2 separate regions of the Homo sapiens genome follow, and region 2 is linked to region 1. Evidence: fine-mapped expression QTL. A gene starts in region 1. The other region holds a variant in brackets. All regions are shown on one strand. Distances are between the middles of the regions.

Region 1 (16,576 bases):
CCTATGTAAGAAAACTGCACATTCTGCACATGTACCTCAGAACTTAAAGTATAATAATAAAAAAAAAAGAGAAGAACTTATTGCAGACTGAGGCAGAACTCTTCAGAAATTACTCTATCTCATTCTTTAGTGACTAGACAAAATAAGGCCTAAATAGAACAAACGAAATTTTTGATCTTTCATGATCTACACCCAACCCTACTGAACTATACAGATTTCTTCTAACAAGTTTCTTTAAAATTTACTGATCTCCACATGCCCGGCCCCCAACCTCCCTGAATAACCTTTCCTCTCTCACCTATCTGTTCTCAACTTAGGGAGTTTTCTCTCTCCAACGAAGTCTTTCCACTTACCACCCGGTTCACATCCTCCACCATACTCTGATATCATTATTAATAAATGTTACTGACTGGATGTGTACAATGTTCATTTTGCATGTTTATATCATAGAACCATCACAACAACCTTGAGAGAGGCAGCTCTTACTCCTATTTTAGAGGTTAACTGAGGCTTTTAGAGATTTTGGCAACTTACCTGAGGTCACATTGCTAGTACGCAGAAGTATCTGATTCAAAATCAGACTGACTTTAAAGTCTAACAGAAGTGATTCCCAACGTGTGAGACCCTGGTACTACAGCACAGAGCTACAAAAGGGGGCAAGAAAGAGAATTTTACCCCAACCCTCACTTAGTGCAAGTGGCCATGACCTCCCTGAAACCCTCTTCTGTCTAACAATGAAATCAGCTTGCCACATCCTGCCTATAGAAGCAGCTGCAACAGACCAACTCTTGAAGGGACTGCTAAGGCTGCTCAGGCTGGTGCTTCCTAGCCCTGAGAAAGCAAAGCTGTGTATTAATATGATTCTTACAGTTCCCCTTGCACACACCTGCCACTGACCTCCATTCTCCTCCCCACAACACACACACATACAACCCCTCCTGTGCCTGCACTGGGTGGGTTGCTAACCTGGGGCTGGAGGGAAAGTGGCTTCCGAATCCAAAGCTTTTATGGATGGGCAAGTAGCTTAGCAGGCAGTAGAGGGAATGTATGTTAGATGACTCTAGAAAACAGCGGCCAGGTGCCACACTCCAGGCCTTTTCCCAAGATTCACAGTTAGTCTGAAGCGGCTCCATTTACTGGTCTTCCAGGTGAGAAGAAGTGCAAGTACCTCAGTAGCCAGCAGAACTGGAGACATACAAGGTCAGTGACCTGCAAATTTGCTAGTGCACCACTGATATCATTTTGAAAAAAAACACATTTTAAGTTGACATTAAAATCTCACCATATGTTTAAAGGATGCAATTTCCAGCATACTGTAAAAATTGACATTTTAAAATACAAATTATACTGCCTTTAGTATGTGCCCAGTGGAAACTAAATATCATAATGATTTTGATACCCATCATCATCCATTTAAAAATTCATAGACTGACTCATCTTTAACAGGTGGAAATTTTATGCTGCTCGTTTTCCTCTTTTATTTACATTCTACTTCATATAACTTCATCTTAATATATTTTCATGCTTGAAATCTTTTTATCACCCTATCATGCTTCTCTAGCCCCCACATATACACATGTGTATGTACTAAATTTGTTTTTCCTGTGGTCTTAAATCTCTAAGTGTTAAAATGGTAACTTCTGGATTCAGGGATCAATAATATTATTAGTACAAAACCGATCAAAACAACTTATAAAAGTAAAAATTGGTAAGAAATGGATACTTAATGAAATGAGCTTTTGTTTCCATATATCCATAAATGAATATTACTTCTTACTATAATAAAATCAGTCAGGATTCAACATCATTTTTATGCCTATTTTGTGTTTTTTATAAAAGCTGAGAAAAACCTTCAGTTAAATAAGTGGATGAGAATTAAATATATTTTGTTATAGCAATGTTTCTTACTTTGAATTCTTTTGGAGTTATATCCCCAAATCACTTAGCAACCTATCATCAAAAATGTCTTAAATGAATTGATAGCTGACATCTCAATCAAGGCTCCTTTACTTTTGTTGAAAGCAAAACTTGGAAACCACCTGACTTGTCAGAGAATCTGTTAGTCATTTGCTTTCTCACACTGACACTCCAATAGTTTCTGGCATATGGAGGTTTTGAATACCTGGAGGAACATAGCATAGAAGCCAGAATGGTGCAAGTGTGCCTTTCTTTTTGTGAAAAGGGTGAAGGGAAATTGGAGAAAGGCAGGTTGGGAAAGGAGAATATGTGCCCCCTTATGTACAGAGGGGCAGAGTAATTTTCTGAAAGAGAATACATGAAAGTTGAGGATGTGAAAACTGACTGCGGTCACTTGCCTGAGCCTACATACCCCCTTGAAAAGTCTTTCTATTTCTCACTCATTGTTGCTCCTCCCTCCAACATGCTAAGTCTGTTTTGTCTTCTTTTTTTTAGAGACAAGGTCTCACTCTGTCACCCAGGCTGGCGTACAGCTGTGCGATCATGGCTCAGTGAAGCCTCGACCTCCTGGACTCAAGCGATCCTCCTACCTCAGTCTCCCAAGTAGTTGCGCCTACAGGCACGCACCACCACACCCAGCTAATTGCTTATTTTTTCTAGAGATGAGGTCTTGCTATATTGCCCATGCTGGTCTTGAACTCTTGTCCTCAAGCAATCTTCCCGCCCTCAAGCAAATCTCCTGCCTTGGCCTCCCAAAGTGCTGGAATTACAGGTGTGAGCCATCGTATATTATCTTCTTGTCAACATTCATTCATTCTCTAAAAATACACCGTCTGTCAACTATAGGCTAGGCACATCTATTTACTGATAATGATATAAAATAAGCTTAAATTCCTAAGAAACAAAAGAAAAATAAATTCCTAAGAAACAAAAGAAAAATTCCTAAGAAACAAAAGAAAAATATTAAAACTGACCAAAAAAAAATTAAGTAAAACTAGACAGATGGTACACAAGAATAACTGAATTTTGAGAAACAGTTAATGAAGCTAAACTAATATATCACACTGTGTGTCACCCTGCCTGCTTACCCATTTCCCTAACTCATTTATATGGGAGCCTTGACTTATTTTTCTCCTTGGCTAAGTGCCTGGGGCCTAAATCCTGGAGTAAATGAATAAAATTGGAGTTCTGATTCAAGGCTCTCTGAACTACTTACTATTTTAACAAAATTAAAGCATTAAAAAATTAAAAGCTAGTTAAGTTAAAATTTTGCAAAACTGTATAATGTATCATTTCGATAATGTTTATTATTTGATAGTATAATTTTCATTCAACTTTTCTGTGACTTTATTCTTTTTTCCTACTACTCTACTCTCCACCCTACCTTCCGTCCTAGTGACGAAGATGAAAAATATCATTTAATCTAGAAATTGTTAAACACAATTAATATAACCCTGTAGATTACAGAACCTATTTAAATTTCCATAGCTAAAAAAGAGAAATTCCTTGATTTAGTGCTATTATTATCCACTAGAGGGTGCTCATTCAACTCTTTTAAAAGTTAGAAATGAAAAACAAATCAATTTATGGAAATGCACCAAAGTATGTTTTTGAGTCATTTTATTTTTACTCCTCAGAGATGCTAACGAAGAGCTGATGGCTTCCTATTCTATTTTGGCAATGGATCTTCCTTGTATCTCACAGAAGGGCAATTTATGTCCAGATTTGTTATTCACTGTACCTCAGATAGGAAATCCTTTGCGTTTCTGGTGGAACATCAAAAGGCTAAAAATCCTGAACATAAGAGTCCTTCATACTACGGGATCTGAGCATACATTTGGAAGGATGCAACTCTGGACCCTTCACAGCAGCACAGATGGTATAGGAAAAGGCGTGGACTTTTAAGTCACAGGACTGAATTTGCCACAACTACAAGATACCTATCAATTGTTCTAACCTCTGACTTTAAAGTGTCTAAAAGTTACTTCTTCACAGAGATTTGCACAGATTAAGGCTGAAAATGTGTGTAAAGCCAACATATAGGACAATATAGAAATCTAGATACTGGTTCATTTCTCTCTTTCTTAACCACCTCAGTCTACATCCTTCACAGATTATGGTAATATTATCAGGTTGTGTGTGTGTATGTGTGTGTGTGTGTGTGTGTGTATTTTTTTTTCCTCTCTGTATGTGAACTCTCGGTCAGTGAGGAGAGTGTCCAAAAAAAAAAAGATGTTGCAGACAGTTCAGACTTATATGGTCTGTTTGTTTTGCTTTCTATAAAGTACATGTAAAATTTCCACAGTTAATAAATATTTCTAATTAATGCTTATATTAATCATACATTTATTAAGTATCCATTAATTATCCAATTAATCATACATGTATTTGAGGGCAGGATATATACAGTCCATTTTTGTATTCTCAGTGCTTAGCACAATGCCTAGTACACAAACACTGACAAAACTGGGAATAAGCAGAAGACTTGCCCAAGTCTCAAGGTATTGGTTCTTCAAAACCCTCCCTTGTCAGGAAAAAGATAAGCAAGTTAGTAAATTATGACGATAAAACCTTGAAAGAATCACAATAGCTCTATCAACAAAATGCAATGGATACACGAAGGGCAAAACTAATTTTGCCAAGGGACATACAGAAGGCTTGATGAAGTGGTTAATCATAGTAACAAAAATAATGCTAATGCATATGAAGTCCTTACTATACGTCAAACAACATTCCATTCACATTGTATATACACAAATTCATTTTATCTTCCCAAATGATTATATGAAATAGATACTATTTTTTCCCCATTTTACAGACGAGGACAATGGAGCACAGAGATATTAACTCACCTAGGTCATATGCTACAAGATGCAGAGGTGGGATTTGAACCCACACTACTGCACAGAGGGAGAAGGGAAAAAGGCATTCCTAGCAGAAGAACAGCATAGCCAGTCCCAAAGGCATGAAGGAGCCTGCCCAGAAAGATAAGATTTTTAGTCCAAACATAATACTGCAGACTTCTGGGGAGCAAAGGTTTGTACTCAAGGTGTGACACAATGGAATTTGGTAGCACCGAGAAACAGCATGACAGAGTGGGTACAACAAACTCTCAAGGCTCTTCAAAGTGTTAGATGTGTATACTTGGGCAAGTTAAAGTGTGAGATGTGTATACTTGGGCAAGTTACTTAACCTCTGTGTGCCTCAGCTTTCCTATATATAAATGGAAATAACTATTTCAGAGGGTTGTACATAGGATTGTTATTATTCATAAAGTGATTACAACATTGACTGGTACATAGTGCCATAAAAGTGGTTGCTAAAATAAGCAAACAGGTAAGTACTAAACATGGCTGTTGCAATATGCCAGATAAGAGATTGGGAAGGTCTAAGTGAATGGCAGCAGTAGAGAATTTTTTTAAAAAGATCCAAATTAAAAGGGGGCAGGGTAGTTGAGTCTCAAAGACAACTCTCACTTCTGACACCAATTACAAGTTCAGGGATTCCAAGGATGACTCTCAGGTTTGATTATTCACTGGGACACAACCGAACTCACTGAAAGCTGTTATAATCACAGTTATAGTCACAGTTTATTATAATGAAAGCATACAGATTAAAAACAATCACAGGAAGAGACTCATAGTGCAGAATTCACAACAATTCAAAGCATGAAGCTTCCAGCTGTCCTCTCCAACGGAATCATCAACGAGGTCAACTTTTGCTGGCAGTAATGTATGACAGTATGCACAAGAGTATTGCCAACCAGGGACACTCACCAAAGCCTTGGTATCCACTTTTTATTGGGGCTTGGTCACGTATATATGATTGACTGTCCATACAGCTTTTAGTCACAAGCCCTTCTGGATGTTGAGTTGACACCTGTGGTCCCCAGGCCTCAACATAAATCACATCGTTAGATTATCAGGTGTGACCTCAACACCCAGGTAAACAAAGACACACTTATCAGGAAGCACATTCCAAGGGCTTAGAGATCGCCTCCCAGGAGCTGAGGGCAGTTGCCAGACCTATTTTTATATAAGGTTCATTTTTTACTACAAAGGTAGTGAAGGTATAGAGAAGAAAGGAGGAAACCAGACTGATGGTGATACACTTAATTGAGATAAAATATGCAGGTAGCAAAGGCAACATAAGTTTGAAAGGGAAAAATAATAATACACTTTTGAGTTTGCCAAGTAACTGAAGTTGCTAAAAAACAGAAGTATGGGACTAAATCTTAGGAAGAACCTCACAGCTTGAGATGACAGCATACTGATAAAAGTCATGCCATGAATGGGCTTACCTGAGGAGAACATGGAGGCAACAAATAGAGCAAGAATTGAACCAGGGTAAACTCCAATTTTAAAGGGCTGCTCAGAGGATGACTAGACAAGAAAGGTTACTAAAAAAGAGCAAAACTAAATACTAAATCTTCCTCACTACTACAGGAAACTAAAAATATTGAATAAATTACTTTCTAAATAGGCCAAAAAAAGAGCACTTGACTTTCCCTGGAAGTAGACTCTACAAGTACATTATGTCTTGCAAACAAGCAGTTAAAACACAAAATATTTCATTCTGTTCTTATTTCCCCATACCATCTTCCATGCTCAGACTACTTCCTAAGCTGAGAAACCTTTATTTTGCCTATGGCAAATTTAGTGTGTGTTTATGCAAAACTTAAATTACCACAAAAACCCCACAATAGGGTAAATGAAGCAGAAGGCACAGCTAATTAAATGGATTTGAGGTTCATTGCTCATTTTGCTCAGGGTCAAATAATAGTATATGACTTTCTGAGTACACTAAGTAGAAAAATAAGTCATTATAGGATATGAGTAGCCAGACTGCTACAAAGTCTACAGAAAAAAAAAAAGCCTCTTGAAATCTTTTTTTTTTTTAAATCACATCCCAGATATGAGACAGTACAGAACAAGGATGAGCTGTGGGAGTTATTGAGTCAGACAACCCAGGCACAAGCCTCAGCTCTGCCACTTATTAGCTGAGTGAACTTGGGCAAATTACTTAAACTCTTAACGGGTTTGTTCTGAGGATCATGTAAGTCAGTATTGTCTGGCATATAGTAAACATGCAATAAGTGTTTGGTTATTTGGATACTCTATTTGAGTACCTTTGTATACTGAAAACCTCATAAATTTATTACATACTTTATTATTCAGTTCTTCATCTCTGTGACAGAAAATACCCATTTGAAAATCTACTTTTGAAATAAAACCCACGAGTATAAACGGTTTGCATATTACAGCATTTACCAATTTCTATAACAGCTTAATTGTCCTAAAATTATCTCAGAATCACCTCAGACTTTGTGATCTTTATTAGCCAAAACTTAATTTGTTTTAGAAAATGCTCAGAACTGCCCTTTGTAAAGGAGAAATGCTTAAGAGTTGATCCAAGAAAAAAATGGACAAGCCAACCATCTGAAAAATTAGTCTGGACCAAGTTCCAGATAATATCTGTAGCCATGCAACTTTTTTTCCTCATGCAACATGTAGTGGGCTTTTGCCCTAACTTCATGAACAGTGCACCTTCTTCCCTCAACCTAGGAGGCCTAGTTCTTTTTGTCAAAGTAACTCCTCTAAGTCACCAAGACCCAGCTTCCCTTCAGGCCTTTGCTGGCACCCTCAGGCTTTGTTAGATACTTGGATCACAGTATTTACAAATTAGTTTATATAGTTGTAACCACACCCATCTCCTCACTTCTCCCATTAACACTAACTAGACGGCATGTAAACTGGACATGCAGACTGTCTTGCTCTGTATTCCAGAGAGGGTTATATAGTGTATCAGGCACTCAATGTCAAGAACCCATACAGTAATCCATACATTAACATCATCTTACCAAACAGACAAATCACATTTCTCCCACTTCCATGCATTAAACATTCCTTATTTTTATATTTAAATAATTTTGTGTGTATATGCACGTGTTCAAAATATACCCAGCCATCGACATAGGAAAGAAATATGATTACCAAATAAAGTGTACCTTTGGCTGAGATAAAGCAGTGCTGGCTTTAAAGATTTGTTGTATTATCTTCTAAATTTCAGAAATCAGTCAAATATTCCAAATTTTATGTTTTTTTCTTTTACAGTATAATTAATTTTGTCAAACTAGTGGGCATTCCTATTTCAAGGATCAAAGTAATTGCTCAAAGCAAAGGCGTAACAATTTGTGCTTACCATCCCGACAAAGTTTTATTTCCCCTTTCCAACATGCTATGATTCATTCTATTTCTTCTTAGTTGTTCCTTTCTATAGCTTCAGTAGGAAAAGGCAACCAGATTTAGATTCCTTTGCCTTTTAACCTCACAGCATCCCTCCCACAAAAAGGAGGACTACATATTGTACTTTGTTCCATCATAAAGCATCGAGATGAATTATACTAACCTTACTGTATTCCAGGCATCTCCGAGTTCTTTGGAATACTGTTTTTCAAAATGATCCAACACAACTTTGCAAATCTGTTTTGCAAGCTTCCCCTCTGATTTTGCTTTCAGCTATGACGATAAGAAAAAGTTGCTGACACACAGTGATATTACAAATTTACTGAACGTCAACATTAGCAAGGTCTTTTTTTAAGACAAGAACACTTTTTTTGGATAATTACTAGTTCTTGAAATGGAAGCAATACCTTACATGTACCAAAACTGTACATTATCTAATTATGAAAAAGCAAGGTTTTTCCAAATAATTATTTTCCAAATGTGAAGCAAAGGTTAAAACAGAATCTACTGGGGCTGAAGAAACTGTCAAAAGGAACAAAATTAATTTTAAAAAGTCACTGTAGGGGCTAGGCAGGTGGCTCACACCTGTAATCCCAGCACTGTGGGAGGCAGAGGCGGGAGGATCACATGAGGTCTGGAGTTCAAGACCAGGTTGGCCAACACGGGAAACCCGTCTCTACTAAAAATACAAAAATTAGCCGAGAGTAGTGGTGGGCGCCTGTAACCCCACCTACTCAGGGGGCTGAGGTGGGAGAATCGCTTGAACTCAGGAGGTGGAGGTTGCAGTGAGCCGAGATCGCGCCACTGTACTCCAGCTGGCTCATGCTTTGCAGGGACGAGGCGAGAGGATCATTTCCCAGTTCAAGACCAGACTGGAAAACATATCAAGGACGTGTCTCTACAAAAAGTAAAAAAAAAAAAAAAATTAGCCAGGCGTAGTGGCCTGCTCCTGTAGTCCTAGCTACTAGGGAGGCTGAGGCTGGAGGATCGCTTGAACCCAGGAGTTCAAGGTTACAGTGAGCTATGATGGAGCAGCTGCATTCCAGATTGGGTGACAGAGCAAGAACTTGTATCTAAACAAAACTAAAAAGTCACCGGGGATGCTGACATCAAGAAAAATTGGTGAAAGGTATTTGAGAACTCTGTACTATCTTTGCAACGTTATTTTAAAGTGAAAAGTTAATTTAGGGAGAAAAGTCACTCCAATTTCATCGTGAACTTCCTTGCAATTGTTTCATTTATTCATCCAAGAAACGTGTATTCAATGCCTACTATGTAACAGACACTGTTCTAAGCTCCCGGGATACCGCTGTGACACAGAAAACAAATCTCAGCCCTCCAAGAGCTGGAGGGAGTGGGTACTAGAAGTCTGCGAGCTGGACGGAAGGGACTCAGCATTACAGCACTCAGCATTATTTCAGGGCTTGACAGTAAAGCCAAAGAAACGCTGATCTCGCGAGGGGACGAACAAAGGTGATGTTCCCCCATCCCAGCACCCTCCCTCGCCACCTCGGCCGCGTCCAGAAGCGTCTCATTCAGATAGAGGTACCCAGCCGGGCCCCAGGTCTCACCTGGGTCAGCATTGTCCCGCTGAGAGCTTTCAAACAACAGGTGTACGCGAATCAGTATCAAAAAGCCTCCAGGGAACTGAAAAAAACAGTCTGACTTCCGGGATTCGCGGGCATCCACTTTCATTCTCACGTTTCCTCTTCAATTTCTCGCGAGATACTGATTTGCTCGCGCTATAGAATTCTTGTCGAAGAGGCTTAGCTCCCGCGGGAGATTTCGTGCGCAGTTACTTCCGGTAGCTGGTAAAGGCTGATACTTCCCAGGACGCGGAGGTAACGGGCCAGGGCCAAAGCGACTTTCGCTACTTGGATTGGTCGGCGTAGCTTTGGGCGGCCGGACCTTAGAAAGTCACACATCTGCGCGCCTGTGCGGCCCCTGCTTCTGCGGATGCTGAGGTGGGAGGATCGCTTGGGCAGAAGTTTGAGGTTGCAGTGACCCGTGATCGCGCCACTGCACTGCAGCGTGGGCGACAGAGCGAGGCTTTGTCTCAAAAATAAATAAAAAGTCGCATATTGTGCTGAACAGTGTGTATATGCATGGGGCTCAATAAAGGAATGAGTTTTGGGGTTATGTTGTATGATGACTGATTTAAAATATTCTCAAAGCGAAGCTAGTTACTGACTTAATCTACCAAATCTAGTGACCCCTGTTAACCTAGACATTCAGTACCCAAGGATAAAAGGGTGGAATATAATGAAAAAGAAATTAAGTCATGCTTTTCCCCAGACCTGGCCCATGGGGATAATCTCTCCTTTTAATGGAGAGTGTTAAACTGAAGTAGGCATGTAAAGCGGTTACAACAGTGATTAGGAAACAGTAAATGCCCAAATGTTAGCTGCTATTATTTTCACTATTGTGATCATTGTGATTTTTGTCGCGTTGATACCAAATGCGTGAAGACCAAAAGGACCCTCCACTCTAGCCTCCCCAATTCACCTTTACAAGGGAGCAATGTTTAATGGTTCTCCAAGGAAGATGTTTATTACACCTATTTTGACACGAATAGAAGTTTATTTGCTCTTTTGGTGTCATGCTTCAGTAACTATCATTTGTAGCAGCAATCAGCAATTAGAAAAAACCGGTTTGATATGGTCCCTGATAGTTAATAATCATCATTTTGAGTTGTTCCTTGATGCTCATATCAATATACGTACATGCTATAGGTACAAGTCTTATATTCATGTAAAAACATGTCTTTCCTTCTAATCTGATTTGAAGCTTAATATATTTATTTATTTAAACAAGTTTCCAAGTCACCTAAAAAATGCATCTTATTAGAATTTAGATTTGGTACAAAAGACTATGATAATCAGGAATGAAATGATGCCATCTCTTGGATGCCGTCTGTTTAATGTTTGTGGAAAAGTCGGTCTAACCTTTCAGCCTCTGTATTTTTTATAATTTTATAAATTTATATTTTATAAATATTTTATAAATTTATACTTTATAAATATATTTTATATAATTTATTTTTCTATGTTCATTCCAGAATGTTGCAATTAATTAATACAGTGGTATTGTATTTGCAATGTAGGCACGTAAAAAAATTTGAAGAAGGGAATTTCGCGGCATTCTTGGCCTGGCTTCCTGGCGTAGCCAGCAAGTTCGGAGGTGTTAACCGCTGCTGTCATGTTTCTTTTGCTAAACTGCATCGTCGCTGTGTCCCAAAACATGGGCATCGGCAAGAACGGGGACCTGCCCAGGCCGCCGCTCAGGAATGAATTCAGGTATTTCCAGAGAATGACCACAACTTCTTCAGTAGAGGGTAAACAGAATCTGGTGATTATGGGTAGGAAGACCTGGTTCTCCATTCCTGAGAAGAATCGACCTTTAAAGGATAGAATTAATTTAGTTCTCAGCAGAGAACTCAAGGAACCTCCACAAGGAGCTCATTTTCTTGCCAGAAGTTTGGATGATGCCTTAAAACTTACTGAACGACCAGAATTAGCAAATAAAGTAGACATGATTTGGATAGTTGGTGGCAGTTCTGTTTATAAGGAAGCCATGAATCACCTAGGCCATCTTAAACTATTTGTGACAAGGATCATGCAGGACTTTGAAAGTGACACGTTTTTTTCAGAAATTGACTTGGAGAAATATAAACTTCTGCCTGAATACCCAGGTGTTCTCTCTGATGTCCAGGAGGGGAAACACATCAAGTACAAATTTGAAGTATGTGAGAAGGATGATTAATATGAAGGTGTTTTCTGGTTTAAGTTGTTCCCCCTCCCTCTGAGAAAAGTATGCATTTTTACATTAGAAAAGGGACTTTTGTTGACTTCAGATCTATGGATAATTATTTCTAAGCAACGTGTTTTTATTCCTCACTAATCTTGGCTATATCAGATACCATTTATGAAACATTCTTGCTATAACTGTCTCTCCAAGACCCCGACTGAGTCCCCAGCACCTGCTACAGTGAGCTGCCATTCCACACCCATCACATGTGGCACTCTTGCCACTCCTTGACATTGTCAGGCTTTTCTAATGTTGGTAGTATTTATTAAAGATGAAGATGCACATACCCTTCAGCTGAGCAGTTTCACTAGTAGGAAATACCAAAAGCTTCGTACATGTATATCCAGAGGTTTGTAGACAAATGTTGCAGCCTTTTTTGTAACAGTGAAAAACTGAAAACAACCTGGAAGTCCAGTGATGGGAAAATGAATATATTTCTGTCTTAGATTGGGGAACCCAAAGCAGATTCCAAGACTGAAATTTAAGTGAAAGCAGTTTATTTGCTAGGTCATACCAGAAGTCATCAATCGAAGTATGGAGAAATGGAACTGAGAAGGTAAAAACCAGTTCAAAATCAGTGAGGAGGTTCTCAATGGTAACGAGCTCCATACTGCTGAGATACAGGGAAACGGAGGGGAGAAAGCTAGAGTATTTAACCCCCACTCCTTGGTTGTCAGCTCCCTGTCCTGTGTGTGGGCAGAACGTACTCCACCTACTCAATAGCAAGTTCCAGGTGTTTGCTGAAAGAAGCTGCTGTAATGTACGGGAACGGTGAATGCCAAACACTTAAAGCAATTCCATGTTTAAGTATGTAAACTCTTCATACTTTTTTTTTTTTTTCTTTTTAAGACAGAATTTCACTCTTGTTGCCCAGGCGGAGTGCAATGGAACAACCTTGGCTCACGGCAACTTCAGCCTTCCCAGGTTCAAGCAATTCTCCTGCCTCAGGCTCCTGGGTGGCTGGGACTACAGGCGCGTGCCACCACGCCAGGCTAATTTTGTATTTTTGGTGGGGACATTCCATGTTGGTCAGGCTAGTCTCGAACTCCTGACCTCAGGTGATCCTCCTGCCTCGGCCTTCAGGGGTGCTGGGATTACAGGCATCAGCCACTGCACTTGGCAGATCTTCATTCTTTTAGTAAAAAGTATAAAGCCACACATGGTTTATTTGAAATATTTTATAATTTAAAAAAGTACAGAAGCAGGAAAACCAATTCTAGGTTCAAGTGAGGGATGATGGTAGTTTGAACCAAAGGATTGCATGTGGTAAGAAATTGTGATTTAAGATATATTTTAAAGTTGGAAGTAGCAGGATATTCTGATGGAGTTTGACTTTGGTTTTGGGCCCACTGAGTTTGAGATGCCTTTGAGAAATGAAAGAAGTAGAGAGAGAATTAAAAACTGGCCAGGAGTGGTGGCTCACGCCTGTGGTCCCAGCACTTTGGGGGGCTGAGGTGGGTGGATCACCTGAGACCAGCTTGGGCAACATGGTGGAGCCCTGTCTCTACAGAAGATACAAAAATTGGCTGGGCATTGTGGCACACACCTGTAGTCTCGTCTACTCACGGGGCTGAGATGGAGGATTCAATTGAGCCCATGAGTTCAAGGCTGCAGTGAGTCGTGATTTTGCCACTGCACTCCTGCCTGGGTGACAGAAGAGACCCTGTCTCAAAAAAGAATCTGAAAACAACGGAACCATGCCTTCAGAATTCTATAAAGTTATTTTCAACTGATAAATCTATATTCAGGCAAAGAATCAAGGGTGAAGGTAAAATAATACATTTTTAGACAAGCAAAGACTCAGGGGTTACATGTACCCTTTCTTGGGAAGCTATCGGAGAAAATACTCCAGCAAAATGAAGGCGTACACAAACCAGAGAATGACGTGGATCCAGCAAATAGTATCCAACACAGGCAATATTCCAGCTATGGAGCTAGCTTTAAAAAGAAACAGTAAAAATACTAATAGATTAGCTGGGTGGGATGGCCCATGCTTGTAGTCCCAGCTACTCAGGAGGCTAAGCAAAAGGATGGCTTGAGCCCAAGAGTTCAGAGCAGCCTGGCCACCATAGTGAGATCCCTTCTCTTAAAAATAATAGGTTATTGCCAGATTTGGGGCATTTGGAAAGAAGTGCATTGAAGATAAAGCAAAAGTAAAAAAAAAAAAAAACAAAAAAAAACAAGGGGGAAGGGTTGGTTAGGCAATAATTAATTCTAGGGCAGGAAGAAGTACAGGATAGGAAGTAAGAGCATCATACGCTGTTTTTCTCAACAATGGGCAATATGTACATAGTCATAATGATGTGGTGACTGACTGCTTAGCCCCTAAATCTGGTAACTACTTTGGGACAATATGGGGGGAAAAGTGAAGATAGTGATGGTGTAAGAGCTAAATCCTCATCTGTCATATCAAGAAATCACTATATAATGTATAACATAATCAAGAAATGACTAAGTAGTTATGTGAAGAAAAGAATGGAACATTGCTAGAAGAGTTAGAAGTCATTGCTCCAGAGAATTAGGAGGGATGGGGCAGGGGACTGTTAGGATGCATTATAAACTGAAGAGGCTTTTAAAGATTACATGTATTAATATATGTATTCACTTGAAAAACTAAAAAAATAGTAATTTTTTAAAACCCATGGAGGTAACTACCAGAAGGAAAAACTAAGAGAATGAAAAGTGCTTTCCTCTGGAAAGAACAAGTCGCAGGACTGTTTTCATTGTAAGACTTTTGGAGCCATTTGATTTTACTTAACCATTTTCATATATTTCTTTAATAAAAATAATTCTATCTTAATAAAAAGTTACACTCATTCATTAAAAAAAGAATTTTAAGACTGTAATAAGAATCATAGTTTATTTCTGTTAGAGAAAGGCAATGTGTTATACTTGGAAAGAGGTCATATTAATTTTATCACATTTTTGGGACTCAGCATCTTTATATTTTCTGATTTTAAATAAACAACTTTGCTTATGAATTTTGTCTGAATCTCTAATAATCTCCTTATAATGCCTAGTTAATTATGCCCTTAGTTTGGGTAGGTTTTCAAATCTTATTAGTTATTTCTTTTTTAGATTACCGCTCATGTCCACTTATCTATAGGTGTCTTAGTATCATTTTATTTATATTTGAGATAACCATGTCAGATGTTAAAACACTTTCTCAATTTTTCTTATAACCATTTGACTTTAAGTGTGAAGGTATTTTAAAATTTTTTTTGTGCATTGTAAATTGAGTTTATTGATTCCACTGCTTTCAGGCTTATACATTTTTTCCCCGAGTGAAGCCACTTCTGTTTCTCCCCTTACCTTTTCATAGTTTGATCTTTTATGTTTAACCTCTTAATCTATCTAGAATCAATATATGTGTATCATGAGAATGTTAATGGATTTTACTCCCCATCCGCACCCCAAATAGCTACCAAAGAACAAACAATTCTACATTGAGTTTTAGGAATAAAAACTGTTAGCAGCAAACTTGAATTAAACCACTGCAGACATAAGACATTGAGCTGACACAAATAACATAAATCACATTAGTTTGTTTTTTGTGCTTTTTTTAATGTTAGCGTTAAAGAACCAAGCAGCTTAATAAGGACGTACCTCTAGGCAGGAAACAAATTTTTACATATCTAAGCAATTTTATTATAAGGTCAGTTGGTCTTAAGAAGTATTTCAGAGTAATTTATGGAATAACTCCTAAACTATGTTTTATGAATTTTCATATTTATATAAAATGTGTCAAAACCCTTCATGTTCATATAGAGGTTTATGTTGTCAAAAAGGTAAGGAGACGCTTTGTAGTAAAACAATATGACATCAAGAGAGCCCTGAGCTCCTTAAAATATATGGCAGAAAAACAACAGGAAAACACAACAGGAAACCTGTGATCAATGCTACAGAACACAGCATAGTTATAGGCAATCTTAGGCTTAAACGTCAGGTGAGATTCTCATTTTACTAAATTTCAGGGCTCCAATGTGGTCTGTACAAACTCCAGCAGACAATCCACTGTGTCTAGGAAGTAAATATAATGACTTTTATTTTTATTAAGCTTTATGTAGTCTTTTAAAATTTCTTTTTTTAGGGAAGTGTATTTAAAATGTACATAGTGCAGTAGAACAAGTATGTTAACTGTTATGGGCTGAAATTTGTCCCCCCAAAATTCACGTTGATGCCTTAACCCCCAGTACCTCAGAATGTGACTATATTTGGAGATGGGCCTTTACAAAGTTAAGTTATAAGAAGTCATAAAAAGAGGAAAATCGAACACACAGAGACAGTGGGGGTGGGTGGAGAAAAAAGGCCACGTGGGGACACAAGACAGTGTCTATCTATCAGGCAAGGAGGGGCCTCAGGAGAAAGCAAACCCACCAACTTGCTCTCAGACTACCAGTCCCCAGAACTGAGAAAATAAATTTCTGTTGTTTAAGCAACTTGTCTGTGATACTTTGTTATGGCCACCCTAGCAAACTAATACAATAACATAAACATCAATGTATATTAAAAATGTTTTCTGATAGAAGATATTATAATAAAAACTTGGAAACCACTGATCCACTTACCTAGGTTGTAAATGATTTCCTCATCCGCACACAGAAGGA
Region 2 (14,014 bases), 170 kb after region 1:
GTCATAGGGCATATCCAATGAAAATGTCAATGATCTTATATAACTCTGAGATAGATGTTTGCTTCAACATAATATTATAAATTTCCAAGAATGATTTTCTCAAAATATGGAGTAGGGACAGGGACCATATAGAAGATTTCATAATATGGGAGATTACATCACAGTGAGGTTTTTTAAAAAAAAAAAAACAGATATTTCCCTAAATTCACTGCCAACATTAATTATCGCATTATGAGTGTTCCAATGTTCTTGATATTGTCATTTAATTCCTGATTGTATCAACCTTCAGTTAAAGGGGTCTTTTCTTCCCTTCCCTTCCCTAACTTTCCTTTCCTTTACTTCCCCATCATGCTCTCCCTTCCTCTTTCCCTTCTCATTTCTTTTTTCTTTTTTTCAAAGCAATGAATTGTGAGGTAATCTCAATGAAATTCAAATGATCAGAAATGACAGTTAAGTTGAGATTCTCAATCTTTTTTTTCTTCAAATTCAAAATGAGAAATTTGGTAGAATTGTTATACTTTACTTAATCACTGAAAGTTATAAATTAATTTTTGTTTCAAATATGTAAATAAAAACTATACTTGTAACTCGTTTAAATTTCCATGTTCAGTATTATGTTTAAATGTAGTTTGATGTCATAGTATTTCTTTCCCTAAGGTTCGATTATCATTGATTATATCATACTACAATCATAATATTCCTCTGCCTATAAGATTGAACATTTAGGGGATATTAAAGTTTGTGTGCGTGTGTTTTTTTTACCTCAGATATAGATGAATGCTCTGAGAACATGTGTGCTCAGCTTTGTGTCAATTACCCTGGAGGTTACACTTGCTATTGTGATGGGAAGAAAGGATTCAAACTTGCCCAAGATCAGAAGAGTTGTGAGGTAAACATTTTACAATGCTTAACTTCTCACCTGTTTTCTAAAATGAGAGATCCTAGATACTTATTTTCACATAGCTAAGTCAGGAAAATACAGACGTTCTGCAATAATTGCTGTAGCTTTAAGCAGGTTATGAGTCATGATTATTTACTAATTATGGTCATGTAAGTCATAAACATTGGGGATAATTAGTGGCTGGGTTTAAAAAAAAGAGGGTAGAGTCACAGTTTAGAGAGTACTTATCTGTAGTCTGTACATTTATAAAATACAACTTGTATGTTTACTTAAGAAATCAAGAAAAGCTGAGTTTAATAGCCCTCATTGTGAAAAAAAATCTCTCATAGAAACTTCAGTGAAAACATTTTCCAGTGTCTACTTTTCTGGATTCCACTCTGACTAGTTTGATCATGCCTTAGGCGTTATAGGGTTTATAAAGTGCTCATAAAATTTCAGAGGGTACAAGTGCAGTTTTAATGTACCCTTTTAACCATTTCTAGGATTTAGTGGGGTTTAAGTATATCATAATTCAGAGAGGTTGATTTCTTAATCTGTGTCTCTCAAACTTGCTTTTAATTACTTAGATTTAATGCATAATTGACCCAGGAATTGAATATTGGGGGTAGGTGCTCATTTTTACTTCATTGAAATAAATGTCACCATCTGAGCTCTTTTTTTCCTGCATCTTTTTTTGACAAGTGAAGGTAAAATTATATATTATTATGAGGCAGACCATAAAAAATGCCTAAATAATGATTTAACTAAGTATACATACATACCTCTATAGCTGTTGCCAAAACAAAGCTGTATATGTCCAGAAAAATGTCACATTCAATAATATGCAACCTACTTGGTAATAAGCTAGTTGGCATTTGTTGTAATTTTGGTACGTTACTACTTAATTGAAATGCCATGCTGTGTGAACATCTATTTTGTAATTTAGTCCTTTATTATTTCTGTATTTGGTGTAGTTACATATCACCGTCTGCCTTGAAATAGATTTATTAAAGTTTTAAGGGGAAATAAAATGTTATTTCTGGGCCTATATTTAATATAGTGCTATGTACGTAATTCTCCTCAAAATATCCTCATATGTGTTCAATAATTTGTATGTTAAAAGCTTTTCATTTTAATGTTTGTTTTCACTCGTAGAAAAAAAATACTTGATACCATATGTGATGACTTTAAATAATGTTCTTGTAAATTCCTTGGAGACTATGAGATCTGAATTTATATTTATTTCCTTCATGTTTTCCAGTATTCCCTTTACTATCTAGATAGCACATTCTTGCTCAGAAAACTTTTGCTTAATAAATGAATGAGTGAATGAATGAGGTGCTGTTTATTGGTACATTAATTCTTACACCTATTTCTGACTTCAAATAAAAATAATTTTCAGACATAATTCATGGGAGATAATATACCTGACTGTTAATTAAAGAAATATATATTGGTTCTTGAAGAAAGAGTTTGTGTTTAGGACGAAAATTTGCAAAGGAAGTATTAAAGACAAAGATCGAAAGCCATGCACATTGAACGAGGCTTTAAAACACATGTATTCTTGGAGGTTATACTGATAGATAGACTATACAAGGAAATGGAAGATATGTATTTATTATTACCAAAAATATTCTTAATTATTTTAGTGTATTACAGATGATACATTAGTAACCAAACAAAAATGCATGACCTCACACAAACATTAAGCAATAACCTGTGCATTTTGATTTTCTTGTTGTTTATTTGGTTTCTTTTATTCCAGGTTGTTTCAGTGTGCCTTCCCTTGAACCTTGACACAAAGTATGAATTACTTTACTTGGCGGAGCAGTTTGCAGGGGTTGTTTTATATTTAAAATTTCGTTTGCCAGAAATCAGCAGGTGAGGAACCAATACCAATGATAATTTCTAGAGGTTAAGCAGATAAGGGCAGAAGAAAAGTGGCCGAAAAGGTTTGAAGTGTGTGAAATTGTATTACCTATCAGATAATGTAGTCATATTACCAATCAGATGACTTGGGGAAACCTAAAGTTAATTTACTCCTTCACACATGTAATTTTCATCCTAAAACCTTTTTGAGTCATTCTAGGCTGACTTTCCCCAATGAACATTTTACATTATTCCATATTATTCCTTTTGTAGAAAATGCATATTTACTAAGAAGCTGGGAAAGTAGATTTAATGTACTTGTGAAATTTCCATTATTCTTTACACATGTTATGAAAACCAGGTAATAAAAAATACTCAGTATTGCTTTTAGAATATCATTATATTCAAAATTATTAAGGAAAAAATTTAAACTTGCTTAAGTGGCATTTTAAAGACATATATTACATAATTTTAGTTGGCTGTCTAAATACTTTATCCATTATTATCGTACTTAGATTGAGTTCAGAAATGAAGTAAATGCTTATGTTTTTTAGTCATGATTCCACTTATTTTTATAGCAATGTTTATGATCCAATTTTTATTTTATTATATTTATTTATTTTTGAGACAGAGTCTTGCTTTGTTCCCCAGGCTGGAGTGCAGTGGCGCAATCTCGGCTCACTGCAACCTTCGCCTCCCAGGTCAAGCAATTCTCCTGCTTCAGCCTTCTGAGTAGCTAGGACTACAGGTGTGAGCTGCCACACCCAGCTAATTTTTGTATTTTTAGTAGAGACAGAGTTTTACCACGTTGCCCAGGGTTGTCTCAAACTCCTGACCTCAGGTGATCACCTCAGGTGATCTGCCATAATTGTACTTCAGTTATCAGATTTTCTCAGAAGCATACATTGCTGGAAGTAGAAGAAAGAAATTGGATTTTTTTTGGAATAATGAGAAGGCAAAATACTTGAGACAGATTATACAGTTCAAATTTTAAAATATTTTAATTAAATAAGCATGTATGTTTAGAACTTGATGTTAGATACATGAATGATTATTCATTAAATAATTCAACTAAATTCATAGACGTTATTAAAAACATTGAAAATTATTCTAAGATCAATAACTTACATAAATACTTAAGTAACAGTGCTCCTTCCACACTTTATTTCTGCCAATATGTGGTTTTTTCCTTTAACATCACAGAGCAACTAATATCTTCTAATGATAGAGATTGGAGAAAACTCTTCCCTGCTATGAGAATAATAATGAGAGAAAAATATTAGTTCTAGTAAATAACACTTTTAGGAATACAATTGATCCTCCAAATCCTTGAGTTCCTCATCTGTGGATTTAACCAACCTCGGGTAGATAATATTCAGAAAAAAACACAATGACAATACAATACAAAATAATACAAATGAGACACAATACAGTATGACAACTATTTACATACATTTGCATTGTATTGAGTATTATACATAATGTAGAGACGACTTAAAGTACGTGAGAGGATGTGCATAGGTTATATGCAAATACTATGCCATTCTATATAAGGGACTTGAGCATCTGTGGATATTGATACCATCCAGAGGTCCTGGAGCCAATCTCCAGGAGTTTGTTCATTTCTCACTGACGATTCATAGTAGTTTGATCTCTAACATGGGATCAGAATTGGACAAATTATTTTTTCCAGAATTTATTATTTATTTATTTTAAACTTTTCATTGAAATATAAAGTATGTACCGATATGTACACATTAGATTAAATGTATAGCTTGATGAATTTTTATAAACTGCCCCTTGTGTGATCAACACAAAGAATAGCTAGTGCTTTTATTTATTTTTGCAAATTTCTTGACGTCTGTTGCTCATGATCAAATACTTTCCCTCCGTAAATGTCAACAAATTCATTCTATTTTCCTGTTTACCATGCTTGTGAAAAAGAATGAATTGTTCCCCATTGTAATGAATCAATATGCTGCTGATATATTCCAGAAACAAAATATGCAGAACATGACCCTTTGAAACTATGATTTCAGCCTGATTTTACAAAGAAAAGGAAATTATCTCCATAATAGAATCAACTGCTGGAAGATCCTGAGCATACACAGATT[T/C]GGATTTTGGCAAGATAATATTGCTTCACATCAGCAAAATGCTCAGATAATTATGAAAGAGCATAGAAGTCCTTATTCCAAGCAAAATTGTTCTTTTTTTCATAATCTGAGTTCAGTAAATTCCTACTACATTGTTATCCATCCAACATACTTTACTCCACATTTTACCTCTTTTTAAATATTTCTTTGGAATTCTAAAGATGAAAACATTCATTTTGTCACCTTTTCTTTGTTCCATTTGAGGGAGATACGTGCCCCATTGCAAATGGTGCCTCTATTACTATTACTATTTTACTATATTGCGGTAAGAGTGTGGGATTCTGTCCTGCCTAATATAGCAATTATCTGAAGTCCAGACTCTTTAACTTAAATTGCCTTTATTTTAAGTTAGGTGACTAATAGTTATACACCTATTGTTCCTTTTCCCTGTTTGTCTTTCGTCAATCATGTGGATTTGCTAGTCCCTTGGAAACTTCAATGCTGATTCTCATTGAAGTGTTTTAAGGATACTGAATCAACACATGTTATTTTAAGTCCTGCATCCTAAGACTTTTCTCCCCTGTAATAGCTACATATATGTCTAGAGTCTTAATAGCAACAGATGTTGCCAGCACTCAGATACCCCCCAAACACATGGGTAGACTATGTCTTTTAAGTTTTCCTTCTGTGTATTCTACAACAGTGACTTATGCAACTGGAGTTTTAGGAAAGCTAATAGATATATTTTAAGTTTTTAAATTTTACCTTTCTTACCACACATGAAGGCTTAATGATGTCTGCAGTCATCCATGTGCCATCTTGTAGATCTCCACGAGTGATTCCTGACATGTGAAATTATAGGGAAAATATGCCTTTTGATGAATAAACCAACGATGAAATTGTAACACATTTTATGATCACTTATGGATACAGCAAAAACAAAAACAAACAAAAAAGAACAACAACAAAAAAAACTACCACTTCTTAATGTCAGATTATATAGTGTATAAAAGGCTCCAGGAGAGATATAGTATGCCTGATACTTATACCTGTGTATTAATTTCAGCATTTGGAAGGTGCTATCAAAATATATGTCAAAGAAAGATGACAAATTACCAAAGCATCTGTTCCCTGGGGAAAAGATTCCAAGAATAAGCAAGAAAATATAATAACTTAATTTTAAACGTACATGGAACCAGAGATAATACATGAGCAGTCTAATTCTGCCCTTCTCTTTTATTAATTCCAGAAAAAGAAATAAATAATTGACTCTTTGTCTGTGTTACTGTTTGTCAGTACAAGAAAAAAAGAATAATGCATTGAGCTTTCTGTATTTCTTACTCTTAAGGATCTCTCTTTGTCCATTGTTTAGATTTTCAGCAGAATTTGATTTCCGGACATATGATTCAGAAGGCGTGATACTGTACGCAGAATCTATCGATCACTCAGCGTGGCTCCTGATTGCACTTCGTGGTGGAAAGATTGAAGTTCAGCTTAAGAATGAACATACATCCAAAATCACAACTGGAGGTGATGTTATTAATAATGGTCTATGGAATATGGTACGTTTGCAGATTTCATCAATATCTTCCCACTTTGATGCAGTCTGTATAAAATCATAATTTATTTTTATAGTGATACCAAACCAAAATGGATTTGGAGTTATCTGATGCTATATGAGGTATATTCTACATACTGTAAATCCCTGAAGCATCCTGAGAAATAATATTCTCACTTAATATATTAGAATCATTGTTTTTAGTTATTTGCTTGAACTACTCTGTCTTTAACTTTTTACCTTTTTTAGTTGCTGTTTGGTGAACAGTGGTGTTAGGGACTATTAGGAGGCCTAACATTTTTTTTTTTTTTTGAGACAGAGTTTTGCTCTTGTTGCCCAGGCTGGAGTGCAGTGGCGTGATCTCAGCTCACTGCAACCTCCACCTCCCAGGTTCAAGTGATTCTCCTGTTTTGGCCTCTCGAGTAGCTGGGATTACAGGCATGCGCCACCATGCCCGGCTAATTTTGTGTTTTTAGTAGAGACGGGGTTTCTCCGTGTTGGTCCAGCTGGTCTCGAACTCCAGACCTCAGGTGATCCACTTGCCTTGGCCTCCCAAAGTCCTGGGATTACAGATGTGAGCCACCGCGGCTAGCATATTTTTTTTTTTTGAGACAGTCTCACTCTGTCTGCCCAGGCTGGAGTGCCGTGGCATGGTCTTGCCTCACTGCAACCTCCACCTACTAGGTTCAAGAGATTCTTGTGCCTCACCCTCCTGAGTAGCTGGGATTACAGGTGTGCAACAGCATACCTGGCTAATTTTTGTAATTTTAGTAGAGACAGGTTTTCACCATGTTGGCAAGGCTGGTCTCAAACTCCTGGGCTCAAGCTATTCACCCACTTCGGCCTCCCAAAGTGCTGGGATTACAAGAGTGAGCAACCACACCCGGCTGGCATAACAATTTATGCAAAGACAACACTGATCAAGGAAAACTCCTCAATTGCCAACAATATTTTTTAAAGTAAGGAGAAATAAACATAGTAACAAGTCTAAAAAGGTAATTCAAATTCAAATATAAGCAGATAGATAAGTAATCCTTAAAAAAAAATAGACACAGGGTCTTGCTATGTTGCCCAGGCTGGTCTTGAACTCAAGGAATCCTCCTCCCACTTTGGCTTCCCAAAGTGCTGGGATTACAGGCATGAGCCATTGTACCGGACCTAGTTGTCAGTTTTTGTGCAAATGATATACATTAGCAGGTACCAGTGTGCTTAGAAATCAGCATTTTAGGCTGGGCGCAGTGGCTCATGCCTGTAATCCCAGCTCTTTAGGAGGCCAAGGCAGGTGGATCACCTGAGATCAGGAGTTCGAGAGCAGCCTGACCAACATGGCGAAACCCCATCTCTATTAAAAATACAAAAATTAGTCAGGCTTGGTGGCGCACGCCTGCAATCCCAGCAGGAGAATCATTTAAACCCAGGAGGCGGAGGTTGCAGTGAGCCGAGATCACGCCACTGCACTCCAGCCTGGGTGACAAAGCAAGACTGTCTCAAAAATAAAAAGAAAGAAAGAAAGAAAAGAAATTAGCATTTTAATTTAATCCTACATATAGCCTTTAATCTAATGATCAAGAATAGCACTTTAATCAACTGGATTAAAGTGGGACTTTTCTGAAGGGATTACTGCTAGTTGATAGTGGGGAGAAGTCTTTTCTGAAGTATAGAGTCATTGCTGCCATCAGCAGAGGATAGCTGAGAGAAGATTGGCTTCACCTTAGAATGTGGTGCACAAAAGAGACATCTTTTATGCCTAGAGGAGCTGGCAAGAAGTTTGTGCTGATCTCAATTTATTTATTTATGTTATTTATTTATTTATCATCACTATTATTACTATTATTTTGAGACGGAGTCTTGCTCTGTCACCCAGGCTGGAGTGCAGTGATCTCTGCTCACTGCAACTTCTACCTCCTGGGTTCAGGTGATTCTCTTGTCTCAGCCTCTCGAGTAGCTGGGACTATCAGTGCCTGACACCATGCCCAGGTAGTTTTTGTATTTTTAGTAGAGACAGGTTTCACCATGTTGGCCAGGCTGGTCCTGAACTTCAGACCTCAGGTGATCAATTCTCCTCAGCCTCCCAAAGTGCAGGGATTACAGGTGTGAGCCACTGCACCCAGACAAGAAGTTTGTATTGAGAAGTCATGTGAGGTCATCACTAAATTATTTTGGTCCTTCATTTATGCAGACATGCACTCATTTATTCAGTAAGCTTTTAGTGAGTGCTTTTGATGCTAAGTTCCTGAGTTCAAGGCATTAGAACTATAGCATATCGGGGAAACCTGCCCCCAATATTTCATTGTAGGGTCTTTCTATTTTCCATAAGTGTCGGCTGGCTGAGAAATAAAGAGAAAGAGTACAAAGAGAGAAATTTTACAGCTGGGCCTCCAGGGGTGACATCACATATCGATAGGACTGTGATGCCCACCTGAGCCACAAAACCAGCAAGTTTTTATTAAGGATTTCAAAAGGGGAGAGGGTGTAAGAACAGGGAGTAGGTCACAAAGATCACATGCTTCAAAGTGCAAAAAGGAGACCAAAGATCACATGCTTCTGAGGAAACAGGACAAGGGCAAAATCAGAAACTACTGATAAAGAGTCCAACAAAGACCACAAGCCAAAGGGCAAAAGCAGAATTATTGATAAGGGTCTATGTTCAGCGGTGCACGTATTGTCTTGATAAACATCTTAAACAACAGAAAACAGGTTTTGAGAGCAGAGAACTGGTCTGACCTCAAATTTACCAGGGTGGGGTTTTTTCCCCACCCTAATAAGCCTGAGGGTACTGCAGGAGACCCGGGCGTATTTCAGTCCTTATCCCAACTGCATAAGACAGACACTGCCAGAGCGGCCATTTATAGACCTCCTCCCAGGAATGCATTCCTTCCCCAGGGTATTAATTATTAATATTCTTTGCTAGGAAAAGAATTTAGCAATATCTTCCCTACTTGCAGGTCCGTTTGTAGGCTCTCTGCAAGAAGAAAAATATGGCTCTATTTTGCCCGACCCTGCACGCAGTCAGACCTTATGGTTGTCTTCCCTTGTTCCCTAAAATCGCTGTTATTCTGTTCTTTTTCAAGGTGCACTGATTTCATATTGTTAAACACACATGTTTTACAATCAATTTGTACAGTTAACACAGTTGTGATCCTGAGGTGATGTAGATCCTCAGCTTATGAAGATAACAGGATTAAGAGATTAAAGTAAGACAGGTGTAAGAAATTATGAGTATTATTTGAAAACTAATAAATGTCCATGAAATCTTCACAATTTATGTTCCTCTGCTGTGGCTCCATCCAGTCCCTCCATTCGGGGTCCCTGACTTCCCGCAACAATAGCAAGAGATTTTCCTTGCTCTAGAGCTTAGTACCTCACAGATAAGTAGCTGATGCTTCTTTGGGAAATAATATAATGTAACATGAAATACATTACATTAGAGGTACAAACAAAGCACACTTGGGCAAACGTGGTGAATTTATAAATGATTACATCTTATCTTTGATTATGAGTCTAATATTAATAGGAATTTTAATTGTAAATGTATCATAATTCATTCAGCAAAATATTTATTGGCACTTCTATGTGCTAATCCTTATTCTAGGTGGTAAAGATACAACAGCAAATAAAAAAAAGTCAGTGCTCTTATGGAGCTTGCGTTCTAATGGTGAGACGCAAACAACAAATGCATGAAAAAATAAATATGCCAGATAGTTATTCATGTTATAAGGAAAAAGAAAAGCCAGACAAAGACATAGAGAGTAATGGTGGTTAGTATGCATATAGAATCAGGAAAGGCATCTCTGATGAGATTAGATCTGAGCTGAGACTTGAGAGCACATGTCATGAGAAATAAATGAGGGAATATAAAAAGATTCTGTACCATGTAAACAGCAAGTACAGAATTTCTTGGAATAGGATGTGTTTGGTATTTGAGGAATAACACAGAGTAGTGTAGCAGCAGGGGAGAGTAGTTAGAAAATGAGGTTAGAAACGTGGTCTAGAATAAGATCATCTAGGGCCTTGGAGGCCATGATGAGGATGTGGATTTTATGCTAAATTGAAAGGCCCTGGATGGTTTTGAGAAGGGACATGATCTAGTTTGCATTTTAAAAGATAATCCCAATCAGAAGCTAATGGCTTTGTGGAAACCAGAAGTGGAGAATGAGTGTATAACAGGATATGGGGATATGGAGTTAGGAGACTGTTGGAATAACCCAGCGGAGAGAAGATGACAGTTTGACTGGTGTGCTGATGGTAAGAGTGGTAAGAAGTGGTCAGATTCTGGATATATTTTTGAAGTTAAGCCTTCAATTAAAATTTTTGAATACTCAGCATAAAGAGGGGTTTTAAGGCCATGAAACTGTTTGTGTTGACCAGTGGTTCCAAACACTATCTCATCCAATGTCTGAAAATATATAATGCTCCTTTACTATTCTATAATGAAATGTATCAGTAATATAAACTACCTTCACATATACCCAATCAAAACCAAAATAATTCTGTCATTATTATATTAATATGGATAAATAAAAGGAAAGTAATTTATAAGAAAATAATATGTATTTCAATATATACGTAGTCAACTATAACTATAACACTTGTCAAAGCTTGCTTCTATGCATAAAGTAAAAGCTACAAATGAAGACTAATGCTGGGGTGTTAAATTAGCAACTCAAGTACCATTAAGGGCATACATGGTGTTGCCATTGGTAATATTAATTTTCCAAAGTGGTGGGAAGTTCCTGGTAAAGATATGAACAAAACAAATATCAATCTATCCTTAGTTGTCAAGATTATTACATTCTTGAAAAATGTAATGAATGCTAAAATAGTGCAGCAAATATTTTGTGTCTATGTATGCACAAACTCAGATGATTGTAAGCATGAATATTCCCTACATGAATACCTAGCAGTGATGTTCAAAAGATTTTAAGAATACTTGATATTTTATTATTAGTTCTGCATTACTTATTATTATTAATTCTGCATGACTAGCCTATGTACATAATGCAGATTGTCTATCATCTTGCAGTGCCAGCATGGCCCCTACTCATTGTGACAAATAAAAGTGTTCCTCACCTCCAAATTTTCCAAATGCCCTGGAGTGGAGTCATAGTGTCTCACTTAAAATACTTGCATGGCTACAGGAAAAAGGTCTGGGGCCTGAGCTGTGGGGAGGGGAGGATCCAGCAAAGGAGACTGAGAAGTAGTGGTTAGAGTGTAGAAAGAGAAGCAATCAGGGTCAAGTGTTGTAGGCTAAGTTAAGAAAGTCTGTAAAGGAGAGAATAGTTGTTCACATGCTGCTAATTGGCTATATTAAAGAAGGAGTGTTGACCAACTTTAAATTTGTGTAACTAAATTTATTTTATGTTGGAGGATAGTTTTTCCCTTCCTATCATGGTGTTTTAATATGCTTATTGTTTGGCTTATATTATTGGTTAGTGAGTGAAGAGTTTGCTCTTTGAGTGCTATAGTTTTACTTGAAGTGATTGCAGCAGTGGTTCTTCAAATTGCCTTTGTAGAAGGAATTTTTATTGTTGTTTACCCTTACTTGAAACCTTTTTTAAAAACCCAAACAACTCTCAAAATTGGAAAACTCCAATTTAATTTTATGTATTTTTTTCTTATTGCCTCAATCACTTTTGAATTTTAAAGAAAAAATAATTTGTGTGCAATTAACAGAATAGTGAACATATTGATTTTTCTTACTTTATATTAAGAACTTATGGGCCGGGCGCGGTGGCTCACGCCTGTAATCCCAGCACTTTGGGAGGCCAAGGCGGGTGGATCATGAGGTCAGGAGATCGAGACCATCCTGGCTAACAAGGTGAAACCCCGTCTCTACTAAAAATACAAAAAATTAGCCGGGCGCAGTGGCGGGCGCCTGTAGTCCCAGCTACTCGGGAGGCTGAGGCAGGAGAATGGCGTGAACCCGGGAAGCGGAGCTTGCAGTGAGCCGAGATTGCGCCACTGCAGTCCGCAGTCTGGCCTGGGCGACAGAGCGAGACTCCGTCTCAAAAAAAAAAAAAAAAAAAGAACTTATTTACACTATTGATTCCATGTGCGTATTATCAGACAATTGCAAAATAAGGCCACTTAAATTTTTCCTAAGATAGAATGGCTCACTTAATTGTTAATTTTCTAGCAGCCTGGAATTGAAAGATATATAACTGGATGTTTAAGCTTAACAGAATAGTATTTTTTTTAACTTTAAAATATGGTATGCTTTTAATTTTTGATCGTGCTGCCACCCTAAATGCCTTTTTATCACATTTATCATAATTTGACATTCCAAATGAGTTGTAACAAATTAATAATTACATTAAAATGATTACTTTACAGAAGTATTTTATTGGAATAATAACATAAGTTTTAGATCCCAGTATTTCAAATGACATGTAGTAATACTTGGTTATTTGGTAATTTTTCTTTTTAATTGTAGGTGTCTGTGGAAGAATTAGAACATAGTATTAGCATTAAAATAGCTAAAGAAGCTGTGATGGATATAAATAAACCTGGACCCCTTTTTAAGCCGGAAAATGGATTGCTGGAAACCAAAGTATACTTTGCAGGATTCCCTCGGAAAGTGGAAAGTGAACTCATTAAACCGGTAATGATCCAAGCTTGTATCATTCATCATGGATGAGTTCCTTTTGTCTGTAATAGATTTGAATATGTGTGTTTCTGAGAATCAATAGAAGTTGTTTTGTTAAGCATACTAAGTGTGACAACTTGAAATGATCATGGAAAAATAACATTAGTAACCCTTGAAATTATATTAATGAAATAAAAAAATGACGTAGTGGTTTTGTGCCCATTTAAATCCCCAGCATAAATCATGAAGTGGATTTCTAAAATTCTCAAGTTAACACTTGAGAATGTTAACACTAATGTTAACATTAGTAATGTAATGTTCAGTGTTAACATCATGATAATCCATACTCAGTTGTTAAACATATAAATTCATATATTTAAGTCCAAAATTACACCATTTTGTAAAAGCCAGTCAAAGGACTTTCTCAAGTCTATTTTTAGGACTTAAATGCAAGAGCTAAAGAATAGCACATAAGGTGAAATTTATTGTTAAATATTTACTATCTTACATCCGTCTTTCATTCTCTGGAAATTCGTAGTTACTTTAACTTTTAAAAGATTTCCATTATATGATATTAAGCTTGAATTAATTAACCCATGTTGACATGAGTATACCTGTTGTTTGAAACTGAGAAATTAATACACTTTAAAAGTAAAATAAATTATTCAAAAAGTATCAATCATTTATGAAACGGTTATTACATGTCTTGAGCCTGGCAGGATACTTGATGGAGGCTAAAGAATGCAAACACTTTTGTGTCTGAAGAGACTTAGAGTCTGATTGGCAAGACAAACCCATATTATAAATGCCACTAAAGAAAAACAAGGCCAGGCGTGGTGGTTCACACCTGTAATCCCAGCAATTTGGGAGGCCGAGGCGGGTGGATCACCTGAGGTCAGGAGTTCAAGACCAGCCTGGCCAATGTAGCAAAACCCCATCTCTACTAAAAGTACAAAAATTAGCCAGGCGTGGTGGTGGGCACCTGTAATCCCAGCTACTCAGGAGGCTGAGGCAGGAGAATCGCTTGA

The links. PIP is the estimated chance that this variant, and not a neighbour inherited with it, causes the effect.
Region 2: its variant is fine-mapped to the expression of DHFR2 in whole blood (TOPMed, PIP 0.98).

What each region holds. Positions count from the first base shown.
Region 1 is chr3:94,056,296-94,072,871 of GRCh38, reverse strand. It overlaps DHFR2 (dihydrofolate reductase 2), which reads left to right and starts at 9,956. Exons shown (of 2, transcript NM_176815.5): 1 at 9,956-10,126; 2 at 11,266-14,950. The coding sequence starts at 11,361. The coding sequence ends at 11,924. It overlaps NSUN3 (NOP2/Sun RNA methyltransferase 3), which reads right to left and starts at 9,811. Exons shown (of 6, transcript NM_022072.5): 1 at 9,734-9,811; 2 at 8,326-8,435. The coding sequence starts at 9,745. RefSeq lists an enhancer at 9,678-9,917.
Region 2 is chr3:93,885,323-93,899,336 of GRCh38, reverse strand. It overlaps PROS1 (protein S), which reads left to right. Exons shown (of 15, transcript NM_000313.4): 8 at 768-889; 9 at 2,646-2,761; 10 at 6,215-6,404; 11 at 12,834-13,001. Among named protein-coding and RNA genes, the nearest start is that of PROS1, 82 kb to the left of the region's middle. The variant T/C (reference allele first, on the strand shown) is at 4,864.